Linked DNA regions of Homo sapiens: all the other regions are linked to region 1. The links come from fine-mapping of genetic effects on gene expression. A gene starts in region 1. Each other region holds a variant in brackets. All regions are shown on one strand. Distances are between the middles of the regions. Region 1 holds the start of RHBDD1 (rhomboid domain containing 1). Region 2 overlaps RHBDD1 (rhomboid domain containing 1). Region 3 overlaps RHBDD1 (rhomboid domain containing 1).

Region 1 (8,183 bases):
GCTCATTAATTTTACTGGTTTTTTTTTTTTTCTAAAAAACAAACTTTTGATTTTCATTTTCTCTATTTTTGTTACTTATTTTATTGATTTGCAATATGATCATTATTTCCTCCCTTTGCTAAAGGTTTACGTTCCTCCTCTTTTTCTAGTTTTCAAGGTGGAAGTGTAGATTTGAGACTCTTTTTCTTGGTGTTTAAAGGACTAAATACCCTTTTGATCACTGTTTTAGCTGCAGTGCATGACTTCAATATGTTTTCACTTTCATTCATTTCAAAATACTTTCTAATTTCCTTTAGTACTTCTTCCTTGGCCCATGAGTAATCTAATTTCCAAACATCTGGGGATTTTCCAAATTTCTTTCTATTGTCAATCCCTAATTTAATTCCACTGTAACTGGAGAATGTACTTTGTATGATCCCAATTCTTTTAAATTTACTGAGACTTATTTATGGTCTAACATAAGGCTATCCTGGAGAGTATACTTTTTAAAAAGAACATAAATTCAGCTGTCATTAAGTACAGTGGTCTGTACATGTTGGTTAGGTTGAGAGTCTTGTTCAAGCCTTCTATATACTTAGTGATTTTCTGCCTGGTTGTTCTACACATTATTGTGAGTAGGATACTGAAATATCAAACTACTGTTGTTTGTATATTTCTCTGTTCAATTCAATCATTTTTGCTTCATGAATTTAGGGCTCTGTTACTGGGTGCATATACATTTATAACTGTTATATCTTCTCAATGTATTGACCCTCTTATCAGTATGGAATTTCTGTCTCTAAAAATATTTCTTGTCAGCCAGACGCGCTGGCCTGTAATCCCATTTGGGAGGCCGAGACAGGTGGATCACATCAGGTCAGGAGTTTGAGATCAGCCTGGCTGACATGGTGAAACCCCATCTCTACTAAAAAAATACAAAAAATTAGCCAGGCATGGTGGCGGGCACCTGTAATCCCAGCTACTTGGGAAGCTGAGGCAGGAGAATTGCTTGAACCCGGGAGGCAGAGGTTGCAGTGAGCCAAGATTGTGCCATTGCACTTCAAAAAAAAGAAAAAAGAAAAAGAAATTTCTTTCTTAAAGTCTGTTTCATCTGATATTAGTATAGCCACTACAAATCTCTTATGGTTAGTGTCTGCATAGTCTACTGTTAAGTATTGTTGGTATTATTATCACTATGGTACATGAACCAATTTCTCATTTTTACAGTTCTTAAATTGAGATTTGAATTATTTAATTTGCAAGCTTTTCCATAACTAGAAAGCTATAAATTATCTTATCAGTTTTACACATATTTTGGTACAGTTTTGGGTAAAACAGTAATCAATACTTGGTTCATTAAAAGCAATTAGAAACCCAAACAAGCTTCTCCCTTAAAAAGATAATCCAGTTGTGTATTTGTTGCACGCTGTCGTTGCATGGTATTGTTGCCTGACGTCCTCTCACTTTCAGGCTGGGTTCTGAAATCTGAGAATGACACTTGTCTACCTTCCTGCCAGTCCTGGATTTGTGAACTGTACAAGGGTTGTTACCACCACTCCTCCGCTTATGTGCAAGCACCACATCTTAAAAACACTCATTTAAGTCGGGTGGCTTAATCATAGGTATTGCTGCTTTTCCTGTAAACCTTAGATAAAAGTTAAAATTTATTTTATACCATTCAATGTCTCACATATTATGCACAATGTGCATAGTGCTGCCTCGTCTCATGATTAAGATATATACTTTCCAGCATTTAGAAATCATTGTTTTATATGGTAATGTAGTGATTACGTATATTTTAAGTTAAAGAATTTCTTCTGGCACTGATTCTTTGGTATTTTTAAGCCTTGCTCAGTGAAAGGATGCTGCTGCTGATTGCTTCATATGTTCATATTTAAGATATACAATTATTATCCAAGTGATATTTGTCAATTGAAATGGGATATGAGCATGTTACAACATGCTCATTTCAACAGAAACTTTTAAAAAACCCAGTCTGCTCAACAAATCACGTAGGACAAAAGAGAAGGTCATTTTTTAAAAGGTAGATATTTTTTTCTATCTGTTAAATGTCTTTTACCCCTTAAATGTCTATGAAAATTTTCACTGATATTTGAAACAGAACATAATTACCTAAGAATATTCTTAATCCGTATATATTTCTTACATTTTAACGAAATTATTGAATTGAGACTTCTTGATTTGTGGCTCCCTTAAAATCACCTCTGCATTTGATGTATTATACGGACAAGAAAATGATGCAATTATAGAAAGATGTAGAGAGTGATGGAGAATAGAAGATAAGATTAATATTAATTGAATGGATTCATATGATTGTGGTTCAGAAGGATAAATGAGGACTTCTTCCTTTTGAGAAATTACACATTTCCCCCTCTAGGGAAATACAGAAAATACCTCTATAGGCAATTTACTTTTCCCCGCATTCATTTGACTTTTCATGTCCAGAAATGCAGTTTCTCATTGTCAGTTGAGCTTTTGGAGGAGTATATTGTTTTTCTAGGAAAGAGGTAACTTATGAGTCTTAATGAACACGTACAATTTGCTAAGAATCTTCTTTGTCACTTGAAAGTCATATGTACACCCACACCTATGCATGAGCCACATTTTCACTTAAATTTCAAACTCCAAAATAAATATTTCTATGAAGAGTTTTAATACACAATGGCAAAAGATAAACTCTTCTGGTTTAGGCAGTTTTTGTTTTAGCAGACTATCTAAACACAGCTGCTACAACTTCCAATAAACAAAGAGTAACACTAAACCACCTGTATTCGGATACTCGGATTCCTTCTTGGAAAAAGAGCATCTTTACCCTAGCTATCAGAAAATTCCATACCAAATAGTAAGATTTTTTTTTTTTGAGATAGAGTCATGCTCTGTCGCCCAGGCTGGAGTGCATGGACGCGATCTCACTGCAACCTCTGCCTCCCGGGTTCAAGGATTCCCCTGCCTCAGCCTCCCGAGTAGCCGGGATTACAGGCGCCCGCAACCATGCCTGGCTAATTTTTGTATTTTTAGTAGAGACAGGGTTTCGCCATGTTGGCCAGGCTGGTTTTGAATTCCTGACCTCCGGTGATCCGCCCGCCTTAGCCTCCCAAAGTGCTGGGATTACAGGCGTGGGCCACCGCGCCAGGCCTGTTGTTGTTTTTTAAATAGAGACAAGGTCTCACTATGTTGTCCAGGCTGGTCTCAAACTCCTGAGCTCAAGCGATCCTCCTGCCTCGACCTCCCAAAGTGCGGGGATTACAGGCGTGAGTTACCGCGCCCGGCTGTAAGATAGTTTTTTCATATCCTATTAAATATATATAGCATTGCAACATTTAACTTAGCCTAACTCCTACAGCTAAACATAAAACTTGCTCCCGAGTAGCAAACAATTAAAATGGTATCAAATTATGTATTAATCGAAATTCTATTAACTGAAATATGAAACACCTAAAGCCCTCAAAATGGGCAAACGTTGCGTGGTGCAGTCCCAGACCCAAGCTTCTGGGAGTGAAAGGTGCACCCGCGACCTTGCCTTGCTGGCTGGCTCTGGGACTCTGCGATAAGCCGCCCTCCGGTTGTCTGCGATAGCTCCTGAAGCAGGAGAGTGTCTTTCCCACCCTCCGCCTAACAGGCGGTATCTGACCCTTCCAGGCAGCAGCTCCCCAGCCTCCGGCTGCGCTGGGGCCCGGAAGGACGAAGCTTCCCGGCAGAGAACCTGGGCAGAGGCGTCCGTTGGGTAGGCGGCCGCGACCCGCTCGCTGCTTCTCCCCTAGTCTTCGGGTCCCTTGAACGCAGGTCGCTTGTTTGCCTTACGCGTAGTCAGCGGCCAGTGGCTATTTATGGCAGTAAGGAATATTATCCACATTTCACATGGAGCTTAGAGGACAGGGCGAGGGTCCACACTCTCCTTACTGCGCTCTGCCGCGGTCCTGCCCCGCTGTGCCCTCGCGGCCCCCTTAGAGCCACTGCCGGCGCACGCGGTCTGCAGACAGCAGAGCGCGGGCGCGCACAACTAAGCATGCGCCGCGGCCGAGCCGTCCGCTTTAAGGCCCTCCCCTCCCGCACCCGGCCCCAGGAACCCGGGGCGCCCCGGATCGGGAACGTGCGTGATGACGCACGTGCGCGCGAAGACGTGGGGACGCAGGCGGGTCGTAGAGAGCGTGAGTTTCCGCGTCTGTTTGGTCCGGCTGCTGTCGTTGGTTGTGAGCGGCATCTCTCGCCGTTTCCCCGGGCTGCGGGAGCTGGCGGCCGGGCTGGGGCTGCTGGGCGGAGGTCGGCGCCTCCCGGGGGGCTAGGGCGAGGGAGGCATGGCGGGGCTGGAGGCACAGCCTCCCCGTCCGGGGCAAGTCCGAGAGCGGGGAGGGCGTTTCCTGGGGTAACTCCACCTGGGGTCTTGTCGAAGTTGCCGCATCTCCGCCGGACCGCACGGGAACGACGTGCCCACACTCGGAGGAAGGGGTTGGCGCTGAGCGAGTTTAAAGGGTTCCTTTTGAAAGCAGGAAGTTTGAAGTGACGTTGCATCAGCAACAGAGCATGCAGTTTCAGGTGCTCTCGGGACAGCTTTCAGTTTCTCAGAACAAGTCTAAGCCTCACCGCAGTAATAACTTTTATTAGAGGACAAAAAATCCGCCAAAGTAAACCCTTTCTGTCCAACCCCTAAAAACCTTTGGATAAACGTTTACAAGAAACGGATCACAGCCTTATTTGTTTTTCTAAACTGAGCATAAACTCTTTTGAAGACTCAGCGTTACTGTCAAAATGAATGAGTGCCTGCCTAGTTATGATTCAATTATCGAGGTGTTTGGGTCTCTGCAGTACACTCAGTGACTCCCAGGCTTTTCTTTTTTCTCTTTGAAATTGCTTATTAGAAGGCTTTATCTAATTTCTCACAGTTGTGTGTCTTTTTGAGGTAGTTCTAATAAACTTTAAAGGCTTCTGGTTTGCTGCAGGCCTGCCGTCGCTGTGGAAAGCAAGTATTCTTTCAAAGAAGAATAGAAGTGCATTGGTTTCTAAATAATCCCAGGACGCTAGGATCAGCATCACTTGGGAACTTCTTGGAAATGCACATTTTGGGGTCTTATCCCAAACTTACTGAATCAGAAATATATTTTAACAAGCCTTCCAGTTGATACCAATGCACCTGGACGCTAAAGTTTGAGAATTAATGGCGTAGTGATAACACCCATTGTGGAATCACATATAATGGAATTTGAATTGAAGTAATTCCTAGATGGAAAAACTTGGACATGTTACCTCACAGGGCTGGAATATGAAGATGCAAGAAAAATGTTTAACACAAAACACATAGAAAACCCTCAAAGATGTTATTAAGTAACTTATTAGAACTGCATAAAATAAGTACATAGTTTGTGCTGGAAGGATTCTTCAGCGGGGTAGATATGAGCTGTAGCGCATGGATATTGGGACTGCTGCTTAGAGGGTATTTTGTTTACCTCGGGATTCTCAATTCTGTGTAGTCAAGGTTGTTGGATGCAGGATATTCAGTTAAAAGTTAAAGCAGTGCATACTAATGCTATTGTGGTTGTAGGATTTTTAAGAATAGCATTAGTATTTATGTTGAAGAGTAGTTTTTAATTCTTTGGCCTTCTGATCTCTTCAGCTTTGTTTGGAGACAGTCTCTTTCTGCCACCCAGGCTGGAGTGCAATGGTGCAATCTTGGATCACTGTAACCGCTGCCTCCAGGGTTCAAACGATTCTCCTGCCTCAGCTTCCCAGGTAGCTGGGATTACAGGCGTCTGCCACCACGCCCAGCTAATTTTTGTATTTTTAGTAGAGACGGTTTCACCACGTTTGCCAAGCTGGTCCCGAACTCCTGACCTCAGGTAATCCACCTGCCTCGTCTTCAGTTTAGTTATACCTTCTTTGACCCAGAATTTGGTAAAGACCAGAGGTAAGCACTAGTTTTAGAGTTGAGAATTATTGTAACATAGTGACTTGCAAGCGAAAGCCAAGGCTGAATATGTTTCTGTCCTTATCTTTGTTTCCCATATGTCGTACAACTCCACGGTAGCAAAGATCTCATGTCTACTCTAGATACCTCCATTTTCAGGAAGGATCACAGGAGTGCCCTCAACCTGCTGTGTTTTTTAGATGCAGTATTTTCTTACAACTTTATCTCTTTCAGGGGTCCATTGTAGGGGGAGAAAGAAATATTCAGGATTTAAAGCAGCTGCTCTAAAGGCTACATTCACTGCAATGTTGAGAAGGTCAGTGCCAAACCGTGGCCTACACATGTCGTTTTGATGAGAGCACGCTGCTCCCAAGGCTATACCATGGCTCCTGGATATTGAGAGAGTTTTCAGATAAACATAAGTCACTTTGAATGGATTATTCTGGAAATAATTTCGTTAGCTCTGCCACCAAATTGGCACTGCCCCATCATGAAATGTTTATTTTTCGAAGGCATTAAATATTTTTTTTTGTTCTCCTCATCGGAGAGGCAGATCGCTATCTGTGGTTTTAGGTCAGACAAGCCCTGCTCTGAATCTTGCCTCTGCTACTTAGTGATTGTGTACATTAGACAAATTAACATCCTCCCCACTTGAATTTCTGTAAAGTAGGAGTCATAGGATGTGCTACTTCAGGCCATTGAATTAAATGAAATAACGCATAAAACACGTCCACCTTGTTTTAGGCACAGAGGCTCAGTAAATGTTGTGTGTCGGACAAAGGGAAAAAAGGTATTTGTTGTCTCAAACCTAACTTTATGCCATTCATTTTATAATATTTTTATAAATGAGGTAATTTTATTACCTAACTGCACTGCTTTTCTTTTTAACCATAAAATGCTGAAATGGAGTCAAAGCTTTCATATTATTGTGAATGAGAAAAAACAAACACTTGAAAAAAGTTGAAACTTTAACGTGAAAAAACACCATCTTCAGTTTTATCACTGTAACAGAGCAACTTGTAGAAATTGTTTTGGATGTTTACAGCAAGGTAAACATCCAAAGGTCAGGGGATGAGTAATAAAGTATCTTCTGTTAGTTAATGGGGACAGTCAGCTAGAGAAGGGGACACTGTTACAGGAAATGAGACCTCGTTGAAGGTATGCATCAAAGGATGAGAAAATGCTGTTAGCCCTGAAATTGCTAATATTTTTTTAAAACACGAATTCTTAATAGCAAAGTGAAAAGTTTTACATTACATTTTTTAATAAGGGATAACAAAATCTCTTACATGTATTTCTGTGTGTTTATATTGTATATGAATGTATGAGTGCAGAAAATACTTGACTCACACTAGGTCATAATTTTATTTGTCAGTATATTGGAATATGGGGGTGGGGACCAAGTATAAAAGGAAATTTTCTATATATGTAAAATTAGATACGTACATGTATATGTAAATGTTCTTTAAAAAAACTATTAAAAACGGAAGCGATTCTTTAAAAGGTAGATTTCCTTTTATGTTGCAGTCATAGCCACGTAAGCAATGGACCTCATATTTTTTTTCAACAGGGAGCCTCTTAAACAGAATCTTACCTGTAAAACTCAGGAGCCGAGAAGCTTTAAGAACAGTGAGGTTGAAGGGCACAGGCTCTTGGTCCTTGGCAGCGATATTAGGAGGCGTGCCTAGGGAACCTCGGATTCCGGGGAGCTGGACGTGAAACTCTGTGGTGGAATAGAAATCCTCAGGGCATGAGCTATACCTAAAACGTAATGGTATTAAGAATTCTGGTAAGTGGGATTCACAAACTTGTTCTGAAGACAATTTCCAAGGTTGTCAGCCATGTCACCATATGGATGGCTTCTCATGCAGAGGAGTGAGTGATTATTGAGAAAAAAAAAAACCCACCTGACCCGTATTTTACAAAGTAGGATTCTGTGCACTTTTTTGAGGAATTAGCTTTTTAAAAAATCCCTCCAAGTTGTGACAGCTGTATCGCTATTAAAAGCTATTTGGCATTTTAACTGACTGTTGTTTAGGATTACAAATGACTCGGGGAAAAAGAAACAAGGAGTCAAAGGAAGTGTATTACTTGTGTTTATAGCCCTATCATTTTTTTGTTGTATGGAAGCAACTACTCTATATTTATATAGTAAAGTGTTTTTTTAGAGTTAATTTTTAGTTAATAATGAGCCTTCATAAGAAAAATAATTTCAAATGCTAAGTATTTGTTAGATTGTTACTAATAGTGGTAGTTAGTGATATTACATTGTCTTTTTCACACA
Region 2 (8,183 bases), 140 kb after region 1:
CTAGAATTTGGTGGCAAGGAACTTATTGAACATGATAGAAAACTAGAGAGAAAGCAAAAGCCCACTTTTTTTTTTTTTTAATTTTACTTTCAGTTCTTGGATACATGTGCAGAACATGTAGGTTTGTTACATAGGTCACATGTGCCACGGTGGTTTGCTGCACCTGTCAGCCCGTCATCTATGTTTTAAGCCCCACGTGCATTAGGTCTTTGTCCTAATGCTTTCCATCCCCTTGCCCCCTAACTCCCAACAGGCCTTGGTGTGTGCTGTTCCACTCCCTGTATCCATGTGTTCTCATTGTTCAACTCCCACTTACGAGTGAGAACATGCGGTGTTTGGTTTTCTGTTCCTGTGTTAGTTTGCTGAGAATGATGGCTTCCAGCTTCATCCATGTCCCTGCAAAGGACATGATCTCATTCTTTTGTATGGCTGCATAGTATTCCATGGTGTATATGTGCCACATTTTCTTTATCCAGTCAATCATTGATGGAAAAAGCCCACTTCTTAAGAAAGAAACACAAAGGTGCTAAATGAGAGGAGGGAAGAGAGAGACAGGGATTACCTAAAGAGCAGAGCCATCCTCCTCTTTCTCAGCCCTGCTATGCCCCCTGGAAAAAGGGGTCTGCCCATATGAGTGGGCCTGGGAAGGCTGCTCCACCCAGTTCATCTGGACTCCCAGGGTCACTAGATGGCACCAGGGCAGACGTGGGCCACACTCAAAACCCTGCAGTGCTGCTTCATGGACGGAGCTTCTGGGTCAAGGCAGGAGCTGGAAATGGTGGAACTTGCCCTCCATCTATGAAATTTTTTGAGTCAGTCATTCAGCAAATAATGACTAGACACCTATGATAGTGACACAACAGTGAACGGCACAGACTGGTCTCTCGAGTCCAGGGGCTCTCTGCTCACACTCGGCCAAGCTCTTGCTGTTTAAGGGTGCCTTTCATGAAGTCTATTTGAAATGTTTTGGTTTCTGTCAGTTTTTGGTTGGGTTATAGGTAAGTACACAAGTTACCACATGTATTTAGAAGGCCCAATCCCTCCATTTATCAACTAAAGTTAAAGAAAGGAAGGAAGCCTGTAGCAAAAAAAAAAAAAAAACAAAAAACCATGCAGGTTCCCCCACTGCTATATGATTTTCTATATTTATGTTTTAATTTCTTGGTAGGCCTGGACTTCAAAGTAGAGATTCAGAGCCCTACCTGAGTTTGGGTTGTGCCCTGTGGCTGCCATCCTTCCTCACAGAAGTTCCTCCCTGGACTTCAGCCTCGGGGTTCTTGTTCACTTTCAGTATTTCCTTTTTGCAGTGTGTATGTGTGTGTACGGAACTATATAGTGTTGATTGTCCTTAAATGATCTTCTTCCAAACTCATCCAAACCATTTAATTTGTAGCAGGAATCCCAAAGTATATCCTTCCCAGAGAAAGAATGAGATTTGCCTGGCATCAAGTTAAGGAAATCATTACTCAAAAAAATTGTTTAAGACATTTTCCTGTGCTAGAGATGCTGGTGACCAAGAAGTGGGTGCCTGGGGGAGATGTCTGGGCTCATTATCTGGGAAAGTTGGGAAGTGAGTGTTTGCCTGTTCCTTTTTCCACTCTGTTTCCTCATTGGCTTTGCCATTTACCCAACTGCCCCCATTCTAAGATTGGTGTTTACTGATCAAGAGCAAAGCTCTACTGCCTTAGGAGTAGTTCATAAAATGATTCCTAGATGTAATATTCACTCTCTTCCCTGCCTAGTCCCCTTAGCAAGGACCTCTCTAACATTTTATGTTTGAATTGTTTTCTTCCAGAGACAAAGGTAAGTTAGATCAAGAGTAAACAGATGGAGATGTTCATTCTTGGAAGCAGCAAGCATTTTGTTATCATTGTTATTGTCTGAGCAAGTGAAAACCAGATGAGAAGAGCCTTGACCTGCCTCCTTCACTAGCAGAAGTGAAGTAGGTCGTATCTTTCTTGCAGCATTCCTGTGAGCGTTAGAACAACTCCGGAGCCCATGAGTAAGGCTACTGTGTGTTAGAATTGTGATTCTGCCTGTTCATCCTCCTGGCTGCCCACCCCTGAGAATCTCCTTTTCGTTCGCATGGGCTCTTTGATAGCAGAGTGGCTGCCTCTCTGCAATGAGCTTGAGGGTTTTGTGGGTAAGAGGCCCAGTGCCCCTCACCGCCTTTCCACATGCTTGCCTCCTTACCCAGTTTGTCAGGCTTTGACAGATGGCCGGCGTTTGTCTCACCTGCGATTCCTTTTTGCACAGCACTCGGTGTAACACTTCAAAGAAATAATTAGCATTCTGAGTCTTCTCTGCCCTGTGCATAGAATGTGGGAAGGTTCCGCTGAAGAGGGACTTGAGCCCAGAGTGTTGTATGGGTGTTGCCCTTTTTTTATTTTATTTTATTTTATTTTATTTTTGAGACAGAGTCTCGCTCTGTCGCCCAGGCTGGAGTGCAGTGGTGTGATCTCGGCTCATTGCAAGCTCCACCCCCTGGGTTCACGCCATTCTTCTGCCTCAGCCTCCTGAGTAGCTGGAATTACAGGCGCCCACCACTGGGCCTGGCTAATTTTTTGTATTTTTAGTAGAGACGGGGTTTCACCGTGTTAGCCAGGATGGTTTCGATCTCCTGACCTCATGATCCACAGGTCTTGGCCTCCCAAAGTGCTGGGATTACAGGCGTGAGCCACCGTGCCCGGCCTGGGTGTTGCTCTTTTTAGTCCTGACTGTCAAGGTATTAACTTCTTTAGAGTCACTTTTTCGTTGAACAAGGATGTACAAAAGAGACATCTAGTTATTACATTCTTCTGGTTTGGTTCTAAAATAAATGGGAAGGTACCTGTGGAAGTGATTTGTATAGATTTCCAGGCACCAGGATCCTCTTTAGTGTCCCGCACCCAAGAGCAGGGTGGATACTCCCTGCAGGCTGAGAGTCGTGAACTGTACAGTGCTGAGAGTCGTGAACCATACAGTGCTCACGGTGTCATCGTATAATTGGAGATCACTCTTTTCAGGTACCTCGCCAGTGCGTGGCTCAGGGACATCCTGGAGATCTTGGTGCTCCCATTACCATTTTCAGGCCATGTATCTCTTCCAGGCTGTGCTCCTGTGGCACAGATGAGGCCTAGTTCCACTGCTCTGATGGCCACACGTGAATCAGCAGCAGTGACTCCTTGGTACGTGGAGAGAACTGGGACTCTTAGTGGGTAGCAAGGAAATTATGTTTTTAAAACCACCAGCTCCTCCTTCCATTTAGTTGGCAGTTCCATTTCTAATATAAAATCTTTCAGATCTGAGCTCTCCTAGGGCCTCCCAAGATTTAATA[T/C]GGTGCCCCAGAATGATAAATGAGAATAAAGAGAAACTCTTCATAACAGGACCATGTAGAAAAGGTGGAATCGATGCCCCTGAGGTAATTAACTTGATTGTGGTACTCATTTCACTACACACACAAACACACACACACACATCTATAAATACATATATAAAATCATCACGTTGTACACCTTAAACTTATACAATTTTATTTGTCAATTAGACCTCAATAAAGCTGGAGGTGAGGGAGGCCCGAACTCAATGACAGTTTGCTTTCCTCAGAATGGCCATGGGGTGAGGGAGGGCCCCACTCCTAGAGGGAGCAACTTCTTGATTTTCCTCATTCTTATTTCCCCCTCGGGCCACCCAGAAGCCAGGCCAGTCCTACTCAGATGATAGAAAACCTTATTAGCCCTCCTAATGAAATGGGCAGTTTGGTACAGAAGAGGGGAATCTGCTTGGATTTAAAGATGGCGTCAAACTATTGTCCAATGCAGGGAAATACATTTATTTCTACATGCAGAAGGAACTCATTAAAATCTGTTAGGCTTGGAATTTTCGACAATGATTTGTACATAAACTCCTTAAGTATTGCCTTGTGTACTGACATATTAAAAGTTATGATGATGCTTAGGAACTACAGATTATTTAGAAAATGTTTGAAAAGAGATAATACACAAAAGCAAGATTTCATTGTCACCAATAGATAGCAGGCAAGATTACCTTGTCCCTCTGAGGGTTCTGATTGAGTGCATTTGGCTGCAGGAGTAATGTAAGTGGCCCCAGGGTTGTTGTGTTCTGTATCTAGATCTGGGGAACAGTCACACTCATGGTTCCAGTTGAAAATAGGTCTCCTGCCCCCATTAGCATAGCAGGGCCTGTCTGGTCACAAGTCCTGGCTGTTTGGTTTGGAGACTATGTGCAGTATGGATTGGAGCAGAGGTACAAAGCCCCAAGTTTTTGGTACTAGGGACACTTGGAAGGTGTGAGAGCACAGCCTGCTCTTCCCTCAAGGCCAGCCCAAACTTAGCAGCCAAGCAGGGCTTCTGGGGCAGTCCAGGTGTGGAGCTCTTGTCCATTGTCACTTAAGTCCTCTGTCACCTTGTCTGTGTCCTCTGGTCATACTAGATCTTGGATATGCCCACCCCCCTGGAGACACCACTAGACAAAGAGAAATGAGGATGTCTAGTCAGTGACTTCCCAAGTCCAAGTCGAGACGTCTGCTTCAGCTGCTTTGACATGCAGCAACATCAAAGGAGCAGTACCCCAATATAGTAACAATTTGTTGTAAATTATCAAAATGTGTGAGCTTTACCCACGCCTCCTTACCTGGAAACCCTCCCCTGCCTTTTCCTCTTCTTTGACTATCCCATCTTCACTGTGTAGGAGACTCACCACCGTATACTGATGAAGAATGCACACAGTTCCGTGTGGTGCTGCTGCTACCTTAAGCTCATCTAGAACACTTAGAGGAAGAGAAGAGACCCCAGTCCAACTTCACACATCAGGCTATTGTCTCATTTTGAGAGGAGGAGAGAAGGGAGGGTTAGGAGTACCTTAACGGGGCCTGGGTGTGGCTTCTAAGTGCTGCAGGCACAAGGTACTATGACTTGGGCCTATCGGGTAGGTGTCTGGAGTGAGGCCTCTTGGCCCTGGGTCACAAGGGCAGTGATAAATTTCAGTGACCACAATACTGCTCTGATATTTTTCCCCACTTGGTGGCATTTTATATATAAAACTGAGGCTTCATTTATTTTGACCCCCTCCTCCCATTGAAAGAGCCATTATCTATTTCTTAGAGGCCCCAAACAAACAGGGTGGATGGCAGAGGCCTCTTGTCTGGCACAAGACTCGGGTTCCTGGTTTACCCTTCAGGCTGGGATAAGGCTGGCCTCACAAGTGAGACTCAGAAACAAGCCACTGCTCTCATGAATGCCTGTCTTCATGGAAAAAGGGATCTTTTTGGTCATTTGTTTCTGTGCCTTTGTTCTGGAAATGAGGAACTTGAGGCCCAGAGAAGTCAAGGAGCATCATTGGATGTCTCGCGTCTCTGGTTTCCCAGTTCAGTTTGTGTCTCCCCTTCGGCAAGCTCCCCCTCCCTTTAGTTTTGCATTTAACACAGTCTTGCCTTCATGACTGCCGCCTCCTTTTTTTCTGTAAACACAAATATGAAGTGTATTTGCTTTGCTTTTCAGCCTTGTCTGCCCCACTGAGTGTCCGAAATAGCCGGCTGGAATTCATGAGAATGTTACGTCTTCAGATGTTTATAATCCAAAAGAATCCCTTATGGTTTTTAATAATAAAACAACTTAGATGTCGGTATTTTGTGTTGGAAAGGCGAGCAAAGTTCACAATGCAGCAATTACAATGCAGTGCATTATGTATAATTTGTAGCCTGCCCCAGGAGCAATGGTGAACCGTGAAACACCATCCTGGCCCTGTAGCATAATTAGCAGGATCAAACGCTGCACAGGGAGAAGCATAATAGTTGTCATCCGAGGTAAATAAAAGTAAGGAAAAGTTCTGATACACCCCAAATTATATAAAGAGCAGCCCCTATATCAGGCTGCAAATATGTCAAGAGTCTTCATTGCTAATTGAAGAAATCTTTTGAGGTTTAGCAGCTCATAAATTCACACTGGGAATTGGCCTATTGTTCTAAGTCTTGTCTTTGGAATGTAACAGTTGTACTTTTATATTGAGTTCCTCCAATAGTACCATTGTAAACATGAAGAGTTTGCATTTTAACGTAAATTTGAACAATGTGGTTTTAAAAGAGTTCACCACATCAAAAAGAGGCTGTTTGGGCATGTTTTATGCATTCTTTTCTCTATAGTATTTAAAGCTATAAATGACTCATAGAAGTATGTTCCATTTAGATCTGTCATGTTGGTGTAGTGTCCTCACTGGAGCTTGTACTGCCCTTATTTTTTTCTACTGTGAGATAATTATCTGAAAACAGGTCTAGGCCTTTTGCCAAGTCACTTGCCCTTAATCTGTCTTCAGATCCATAGAAACAATTCTAGAACGCTGTTACACTTGGACTAAACAGCAACACATTTTGTGCCTTTTCATGATCATCTTTTTTTTAAAATTCAAATATTCAATTTGTACTCTTTTTTCTCCATGTACCAATTACAACCCTTCCTATAGCCTGCTAGCCCCCCATTAAAAATCTCTAATTTTTTGCCAAGCCACTAGTTGGAGTAGAGAAAGGTTGGATGGTAAAGGGAAACATGTGTGTACTGGTGTCCAAAGCAAACTGGCGGAATATGAAGAGTGCTGGGCTTGGATCTGACCCCTGGACATATGGACCATACCGTTTTCTGGTGTGAGACCTCAAGAAACTGCCCACCTACGTCGAGCCTCAGTCTTTACATCTGTATAATGAAGGCAATATTTAGCACTCTACACCTCCTTCCATTCCTGCATTTGTTCATTTATTTGTTCATCCCCAGGCATAGAATGTGGACATAAACCCTCACTGTCCTTGCCCCCATGGAGCTCACAACGCAGTGAGAATGCACGCTGTCAAAATGATTAGATTCACGAGTAATCACTAACCATGGCATCATGTGCTGTGAAGGGAGGGGATCCTGTGAGAGCTTCAGGCAAAGGACCCTCACTGGGGGTGATCAGAGGACACAGTCACTTCCCTGGAGAAGTTGTGTTTGAGCCAAGAGCTAGAGGACATGAAGCAAGGAGAGATGTTTGTTTTTGAAAAGCTCTCCCAGCTACTGTGTGGAGAATGGCTGGTAGGAAGACAGGAGCGAGTGTGGGGAAATGGTTTAGGGTTGTGTTAGAGTTCTTCAGAGGGACAGAAACCAATAGGATGTAGGTATGTATAAAAAAGAGTTTATTATGGAGAATCAGCTAAGTGATTACAAGCAAAGTCCTATGATAGGCCATCTGCGGGCTGGGGAAAGAAAGAAGCTATTCGTGTGGCTCATTCCCAGTCCAAAAGCCTCAAAACAAAGGAAACCTGCAGCGCAGCCGTCAGTCTGAGGCCCAAGGCCCAAGAGCCCCCAAGAGGCCACTGCTGAAAGTCCCAGTGTCCAAGAGCTGAAGAAACTGCAGTCTCATTGTTGTAGGACTTTCTCCTCAGTTCAGCTAAAAACTAGGTTCTTGTCACACAACCAGGAAAGATAAGGCTTATGGACACATAGAAGGGTGAGAAAAGCAGAATTTATTGGGTGAAAAAAGGAAAAAACTCAGCAAAGCAAGATGGTTCCTGTTAACAGGCCCCCATCTCACCAATTGAATCCCAGGTCACCACCCAGGAACAGGAGGGGCCAGGCTCCTCCCCCCTGCAAATGGCTGGAACTTCCCGAGACCCCACCCCATCCTCCCATTGCACAGGTCAGTTGGAGATTCTCTAGGAGCCCGTTTTACTTGGCTGGCTCATCATATTCAAAGGCAGGAGGAGAGGAAGCAAGCATCCCGCACAGGAGGAGAGAGGAAGAGCAAGAAGACTCAGCAGGCTGGGTACCCTTCTACCGTCTGCCCTGTTCTAGCCATACTGGCAATCCACTGGATGGTGCCCACCCACATTGGGGCGCATCTTCCTCTCTCAGTCGCCTGACTTGAATGTCGGTCAGTCTCTGGCAACTTTCAGAAACACCCAGGAGCACTGCTTCACCAGCCATCTAGTCATCCCTCAAGCCAGTCTAGTTCACACCTACATTAACCATCACAGCGGTTTAGGCACTGGTCTAGGCCCATGATACAGGTGACTCAAACATAGTTGGTGACAGGACAGATAGAGAACAATGGACAAATTTGGGAATGTTCAGGTTAAAATGACAGGTTTTGATGGATTGAATTTGGGGACAGGACGAGTGGAAGAGGAAGGTGTCAAGGAAGACTCTAGGGTCTGGGCT
Region 3 (8,183 bases), 40 kb after region 1:
AGGACATACATGCCAGGTGGCTCCTATGTTAGGAATTACAAGTTTAATTACTTGGTTAAGGTAGTCTCCATTATAAGGGCACCTTTATCCCTTTGGAATTAGCAAGTACTATATGAGGTGACACTTGGACATCATGCGGATAACTTGTTTCCAGTAACTTTTTGTCTAGATCAGTGGTTATCCTTGTCTGGATTGTTTATTTTAGGGGGAATTATAAAGGATGACTTCTTCATTGGTTATGCCTTTTATATTTGTTTGATGAGATTAATCCAGAGTTGGGGGTTAAGACCCCAAGGCAAGGAATTGAGGAAGATGAATGTTTGTCAAAGGCTGGTCTTAGTTTTATGGACTTCAAGCTTATTTGGTTTTATGGGTTCTCCTTAGGAAAAAAGTACAAAATTGCAGAAAAAAGTAAAAATTTTAAATGAGAAAGGGAAAGACAGTTCATAAAATTTTAAGACCTGACAAATATTATAAACATTATTAAATCCATACAAATAATATAATATTAATTCCCTGACACACCTCTGTAATATTTTCCCCGACAGGTTTTGCTGCATGCTTTCTGATCTCTTTTTCATATGAAAATAACCTGGCAATAGTATTTCCGTAGAGAGAACATCATGGTGGCTCAAAATTAGTTTTCTATTATTAAGAGTTTAGAAGAGCTTTCTTCACAGCTCATCATGTAAATTTTTAGAATCACTGTCCAACTTTGGAAAGCCTCTATCAATGTTTTTTTTACAGGCAAGCTGTAAAATTTCAGTACTTTTCAAGTTTTTGTGAAGTGATCAATATCAAATGTTTTTTGAATTGAATCAAATGTTGTCATTGACCTTTAGTGGCAAAGTGCAGGTTTTAGTTTTCTTCATTGATCTACTTTGTTCTTAAATCAGCAAGTAATTTAAGTACTTAATTAATGTTCTTATGATGCAGTCCTCTTTATTCATTGCCAGAAAGCCAAAGTCCTACTGATTATTTGTTTACACTTTCTGATGTGATTTGCATATAATTTTGTTTGAGAATTATAAACACAGGAATTCTGATAAAGTTAGTTTGCAGGATTCTCCAAAAAGGAAAGGAACATGGTACATTTATAATTGCATATACTGCATTATCATATATGTTCCTGATGTGGGAGAGCCTCTAATTTCAGTTTTGACTATATGAATGAGAAGTGAGTCCTCTTCTTACAGTTTTACATGCTTGGTGTTTGGAAGATTTTTCCAGACACTGGTCCTGATTCCAGCATGATGACTTTACTGCAAGTGCTAGCTGCCACAGGACACTTGAGAGTGCTGTGGGACCGCTGCTCTTGCATATCCTGTTATCATCCTGGTTACAAATGCACAGTGGGCATTAAGAGTATTTCTGGAAGCCATTTTTGCACTGTAAAGACTGGCAGTGACTCAGCTATGCACAGAAATGACCACAAACCACATAAATATACCATGCTGAACCCAAACCAAATGTATCCTCAACTCAACGTCCCTTTAGCTGAATCCCAAAAATGCCTGGGGCTACTCCAGTGACAACTGATATGGGAGGAAGTGTGACAGAGGGGGAGTTAGAGTGGAAAGAGACAGCAGTTTTAGTAGGTTGTGGTTAAGATATCTCACTTTCACAAGTATAAAAGAAATATGACCATGTGAACATGTTGCTGGGACCCCTCCCAGAGCTCTGAATGAGCCCAGGCAAGTGAGGGACCTGATGCCTCATAAGCTTCTTGGCAAAGCTGCATGTTTCTGTTGAGAGGGGGTTGGTGCAGTGATGACTCTGGGGAAGGGAAAGTAATGGAGCTGAAGAGCCTTGTAGACTGCAGGATAATGGAGGAATTAAGAGATAGGAGGTTTTGTCAAGTTTGAAAACGGAGAAAGCTGTGAGAATAGAAATTGGTAGTCAGAGGAGAGGATGCTGGAGTTGGTTTTGCTGGTGACATGGCCCTGAGAATGTCTATGATGGTATGAAATTGAGACATGGAGGAAGAAAAGGTCCTGGTAGTCAAGGAGTTGTTCAAGGGGTTGTGAGTTTAAGGTGTGGGTGGGTCTGTTTTCACACTGCTATAAAGAATATCTGAGACTGGGTGATTTATAAACCAAAGAAGTTTAATTGACTCACAGTTCCCCATGGCTGAGGAGGCCTCAGGAAACTTACAGTCATGGCAGAAGGTGGAGGTGATTCAAGGTCGTCCTACATGGTGGCAGGTGTAAGAGAGAGCACAGGGGAAGTACCAGACACTTATCAAACAACCAGATCTCATGAGAACTCACTATCATGAGACCAGCATGGGAGAAACTGCACCCATGTTCCACTCACCTCCTACCAGGACCCCCCTTGACACATGAGGAGTATATTCAGATTATGATTCAAGATGAGATTTGGGTGGGGACACAGAGCCAAATCATATCAGGAAGATTATCTGCATGGACAGTGCCATTACCTAGGAGGACTGTAGGAGGTAGGGTTGGGGGACAAAGAATGTGAGGCTACTCTGGTGTTCTCTATGGATGTCAGGAAATGGTATTGGAGGCAGATAGTAGACAGCATCTTTATTAGTTTCTTATTGTTGCTGTAACAAAGTACCACAAACCTGGGGGCTTACAATAACACAAATTCCTTCTACAGTTGGTGTTGTCAGGGTGGAGTTCCCTCTAGACTCTAGAGCAGTTTGTAGGGGAGAAACTATTACCTTACTCCTTCCAGCTCCTGGTGGCTGCTGCCATTCCTTAGCTTGGGGCTGCATCACTCCATCTCTGTGTCCAGGGTCATGTGGCCTTCTCCTTTTTCTATCTGTGTTAAATATCCCTCGTCTCTTTCTTATCAGGACACTTGTGATTGCATTTAGGAGTCACCCTGGTAATCCTGGATGATCTCTGTACCTCAAGATCCTTAATCACACTTGCTAAATCCTTGCCATATATGGTTACATTCATCAGTTCCAGGGATTTGGATGTAGATGTCTTTTGGGGAACCATTATTCAGCCTACTACAGCATAAACAAAAAATAGAAAGTGATGGAAATTCAAACTCAGAATGCCAATCCCATGTGTCTCAGCCTGTGCGTGTGCGCCTCTCTTCCCTCTCCCTGGCATGCCTTTTATTGTCTCCTTGTGAATTCCTGGTTATTCAAAACCCAAATCACATAGTATCTATTGTATGCTACTTCCCCTGATTCCTCCAGGCAGTGTTAATTACTTCTTTGTCTTTGCTTCTGTAGTGTTTGTAGATTTATCTACCGTAAGCCCTTCCTCCATCATAATTAATCTGTGTTTTTCACTTTCTTTCTAGGCTATGAGCTTCTTTAGGGGCTGTTTCTTGTTTACCTTTGTATCTTAACCATCTGCCTGACACAAAGTAGGCAATTAGTAAATATTTGTTGTTGGATGGACATAAGATAAGGAGCATCAGTTGTTTTCATGGTTGCTGTTTGGCTTGAAATGGCTTGCTAGATTGCTTTATGAACTGTCTCAGGTATTTTTACTTTATTCTTTCCATTGTAAGGTGGACTGATATCTCATTGTTTTAGAACTTGGTATCTCACTCAAATGTAAGGAGGTAGTAATCTTGAACAATTCTGAATTAAATCTTTAGTAAAAGAGAATGTTTATTCCCTCATGTGCCTGTGCTTTTGAGATCCTTGTTAAATGTTGACCTAAATCAATACACTATTTCCGTACCCATCGAGACTTCACAGTTTAGCAAAAGAAACACTAACTACCCCCCAAACCAGAACAGAAGGTGGGAATGTTAGTTCAATAAAAATAGAGGAACAGAAAAGGAAAGTAACTCTGATTTGAGAAATTAGGAGGCGCTGCAGAGGACAGGGCTATGTATGTTGAGTGTTTGGAAATAATAGGGCAGATGATGAGATAGACTGCTCTTTGTTTTGAA[AG/A]GGGAAGAGAAAGAACAAATATAGGAAGCTTGGCAAATTTATGAAATCACAATCTATCCATAAATGCTGGGAGATAAAGCTAGTGGTGTTCCTTCAAATGTGTTCTTTTGACCACTAGTTCCTTGAGATGTATCCTGAAACAGGGCTTCCTGGTCAGTAGACTTCAGCTCATGTGGTGTTCTGTGTTCCTGCAAGGGCACAGTGCACATGAACATGTGAAGGATTCTGAAAACATTGCAGGATGGAAATCGGATTTGCCAATTAGTTTCCTAAGTTTACTTGACAATAGCACCCTTTTGTTTTAGCACTGGCATGCAGCAATGTACAGAACAAATGTTCTTCATGGTGCATTTTATAAACTCCAAGTTGGGAAGAGGCCAAACCATAGAGAAGAGGCCAAATCATAGAGGGCTTTGGATGGCAGGTTAATAAATTTAGGCCATGCTTGTAGTCAGAATGGACACACGGCTTTGGTTTCTGAGAAGGAAAAGCCATGAATGAATATGTGGTTTAGGACAGGAGGCCAGGAATAGTATAAAGATTTGCAGAATTGGTGGCAGGTGTCCATTTACACTGTTGACATAGACAAGAGAAGAAACTGAAGGCTAGAACTAGTGCAGTGACTGAGAGAATCGAAAAGAGCAGCCTCACGGGAGAGCAGTTTCCAAGGCCCAGTGACAGTTCATGGGCCGTATAGGAATGACTGGTGTATTGGGAACTTCCTACATGCCAAAAACCATTTAAGCTCTTTACGTATATTATCACATATCATCCTTATACCTACTTTGTGAAGAAGTAATTATTACTTCTACCACTTAAGAGATGAAGAAACTGAAGCACAGAAAGTTAACTTATTGTAGCTACTTAAATATCAGCTAGTCCATTGGATAGCCAGTGTTTAAGTTTCTGCAATCAGGCCCCTAAATTCATACTCTGAACTAGTGGTTCTCAAACTTTTGATCATAAAACCCATTTAGACTCTTGAAAATTATTGAGGACCTCAAAGAGTTTTGGTTTATGTGGGTTATAGCTATCAATATTTACCATATTGGAAATTAAAACTAAGAATTAAAAAAAATTAATATAATTCATTAACATTCATAACATAATTTATCAATAATTCATTTTAAATATCAGTAAGCACAATATGTGTTCACATAGATAAGTTTATGAAAAATTAATGTAGTTTTCAAACAAAATGAGATGAATGGCAATTTTTTTGCAAAACTTTTAATGTTTGGCTTAATTAAAAAAATCTGATTCCCATATTTGCTTCTGTGTTAACTCCTAGAGCTATATCATTTTGATTGAAGGTCAGTTTGGCCTCATACAGGTATGTACTTGGGAAGGGTAAGAGGGATTGTTTTAGTAGCTTTTTCAGGTAATCGTGGATATCCCTCTTTGCACTACTAATTTGGCATGTGGTGGTTGCTTAAGATTAGTTCCAAGGTGGAACCTGAAACCATATCAGTGAACCTGACCACGTTCTGTAACATTAAAATCTGTTGATCTGTCTTGAAGTTTGAATAGATCTTTTCCCTATATATGATTTTCTAATATTATGCATTGATTATTTGGAAATATTGGTTTACTGATTATGTAGACTTTGTAAATATTGACTTAATTATACAGTATCAAAGTATCACATTTATTTATGTCACCACCAATCTCATCAGAAAACTCTTTAAGTATTGGGAAGCTGTCAAGCTCACAGTGCCACATAGAAGTTTTCCAAAATTCTAATTTTCACTCCAATGCTCAGATCTTATCATTGACAACAAATTCATTAGTTGTTTTCCTTAAAGGCTTGCTTTATTTTTTTAGAAAATGTGAGCCATTTTCCTTTTTTTTTTTTTTTTTTTTAACCATAGTTCATTAGTTTTTCTTTTAAGTAAACATGGCAGGGGAAAGTGGGGAGGGCCCATGAAAACAACGGCTCATTCATCTCACAGCTCAAACCCATAAGTGCTTTTCTTTTTCCACAAGCATCTTTCTTTGCTATACAGCTGAAGTGCTTTGTGTGTATTTCACATTTCATCACACGGTGTATTAAAAAGATGTGGACTAATCTTGGTGTTTAATAAAATTAGGAATTTTACCGCTTTGTCAAAGATATTCCTAAACACCATGAATATGTGTCTGTGAAGAGTGCAGTGACTATTGGTATTGTTTGGGGCCACTGCCTTGATTCACTTGACTCATGCTAAGGCATCAGCAGTTGTCTTCTTGCTTTTGTGCCATTAGTGTAAATGTCAACATGGTTTTTCTTAAAAAAAAGGGCAGATCATGTCTTAATGTTGCTGTGAAAATAGTTTTGACTTTGTGAACCTCTGGAAGGGTCTTAGGGGCTTCTAGTGATTCATAGAGCACATTTTGAGAATTGCTGCTTTAAACTCTGATGCTACCTCTCTAGTCACGGGAAGACTGCTTAGCTTGTATGAAAGGAAAGATGGTTATTTGCAACCTGGGAGCTTCCAAGGGAGCTTCATGTAGTTAGGGATGGGAGGGAGAGGGAAGCAGTAGAATATGTACAATTATATACAATCACTGAAATTGCTGGTTAAGAACTGTGGACTTGAACTGTTAACTCTTTGTAGAAAGGAGAATGGCTAATAGCAATTTAGAAGATAACTGTAACAATAGCTTCAGTCCCACGTGTTCTTTTCAAAGTTTCCCACTCAGCCATTAAGAGGTGGAGTCCAGTTCACCTCTCTGCTAGCTGGGTGGATTTGTGACTTGCTGTAACCAATAGAATCCAGTGTTAAGTATCACATTGCTTCTGAAACAAGCAGTTTCTTGCCTTGTGAGTTGAAATGCTTGTCTCTGGAGCCCATGTCAAAAGCATACAGCTTTCCCGATGTCACCAGGCTGTGAGGAAGAGGCCCAACCATCAGTGGCATCAGAGCCAGACATGTGAGTGTGTGGCCTTTGATAGAGCCACAAAGTTACCTCCAGTTTTCTCTGCTGAGGCTGCTGACATTATGGAGCAGAGACCGACCACCCCGTGTGCTCCTTCTGAATTCCTGACCCACAGAATCTGTGACTCCAAGAAAACGTTTCTTTGGTCCCACTAGATTTGGGGAGACTTGTTCTGTAGAAGTGGTAATGGCAACCATGAGTTGAATGAATATAGGAAAAGTAGAATGAAAAGTGTGCAAAGGACAGTGTTGAGTCGGGGAGAGTAGAGTGAAAAGAAGGGAGTGAAAGAGTCTTGGGGACAGATCCATACTGAGTTGCTGTGCTACTGTGAGTCCTAACAACAGCACCCATCAAGTAAGAGAGTTTTAAATCAGTGGTTTTCAACTGTGGGTTCTAACTCATTAAAAGGACGTGAAATCAATTTAGTGTGTCACAACTGGCATTCCAAAAAAAAAAAAAAAAAACAGACATAGAAATATTAGTGTTACATATAGAAAGGGTAAGTATTATTTCAAGGACCTTTGATTTCAGCTATGTTTGTATATGTGCTGGGTGAAGTCTAAAATAAGTTTTTATGTGGGACACAGTACAAAAATTTTGAGAGATGCTGCTTTAAACTGGCTACTAGTTGCTTAAGCTAGACTTAAATATGTGTGTGGGATCAGTATCATTTATTGCCTTCAGTGGAAGAGAGAATTAGATTGCCAGGACTCTGGTGGCAATGAGAAGAACAGGCCATGATCATAGATTTCTGCTAATTTATTGTCTTTTGTTAGAACAAGTACTGTTTGTTCACGAGGCTTACTAATGAGTGTGCCAGCTCTCAAGATAGTTGTCTGTATATGGAAATGTGTGCTCACAGATTTAGACTTCACCTGAGCCAGAAATGCTAATAACAGTTGTTCAGTTATAAACAAAGTTATTAGTAAAACCCTTTAAAAATGCAAAAAAAGGGTTATCTAGAGCAAAGGAGAAAATGAGGTATAAAATTTAATACATTTTCCCAAATGAAAGTATAACATTCCTTTCTAAATTGTTTGAAATGTAAAAGTATTTCTGACAGCTTGGTAGAAAATAAAAACCAATGGATATAGGGTCAAAAGATACATTGGGAGTCCATATAAATAAGCAAGTGACATATAAATTCAGCAATACCCAAATTAGTCATTCTTAGAAGAGAAACCTCCTTCAACAAAAATAACCTGATGGATAAGGACTGCAGAAGGAATTTTGGTCTTCTCAGAGTTGGGTTGGTGTCTGTGGCAGCTCTTTGAGAGGGGAGAAGAGTGGCTGTCTCAGATTTAGGTTTCTAAAGGAAGGTTTAAGTTATTTTTCAAGAAGTTATGTCAATTTATTGTGTTATTTTGGTCAA

The links. PIP is the estimated chance that this variant, and not a neighbour inherited with it, causes the effect.
Region 2: its variant is fine-mapped to the expression of RHBDD1 in whole blood (TOPMed, PIP 0.94).
Region 3: its variant is fine-mapped to the expression of RHBDD1 in monocytes (TOPMed, PIP above 0.99).

What each region holds. Positions count from the first base shown.
Region 1 is chr2:226,831,940-226,840,122 of GRCh38, forward strand. It overlaps RHBDD1 (rhomboid domain containing 1), which reads left to right and starts at 4,115. Exons shown (of 9, transcript NM_001167608.3): 1 at 4,115-4,148; 2 at 6,134-6,215; 3 at 7,470-7,688. RefSeq lists enhancers at 3,434-3,728, 3,568-3,637, 4,478-4,627 and a silencer at 3,898-4,427.
Region 2 is chr2:226,971,845-226,980,027 of GRCh38, forward strand. All of the region lies in intron 8 of RHBDD1 (rhomboid domain containing 1), which reads left to right. It also overlaps a transcript of COL4A4 not described here. Among named protein-coding and RNA genes, the nearest start is that of RHBDD1, 140 kb to the left of the region's middle. The variant T/C (reference allele first, on the strand shown) is at 3,317.
Region 3 is chr2:226,871,816-226,879,998 of GRCh38, forward strand. All of the region lies in intron 5 of RHBDD1 (rhomboid domain containing 1), which reads left to right. Among named protein-coding and RNA genes, the nearest start is that of RHBDD1, 40 kb to the left of the region's middle. The variant AG/A (reference allele first, on the strand shown) is at 3,892.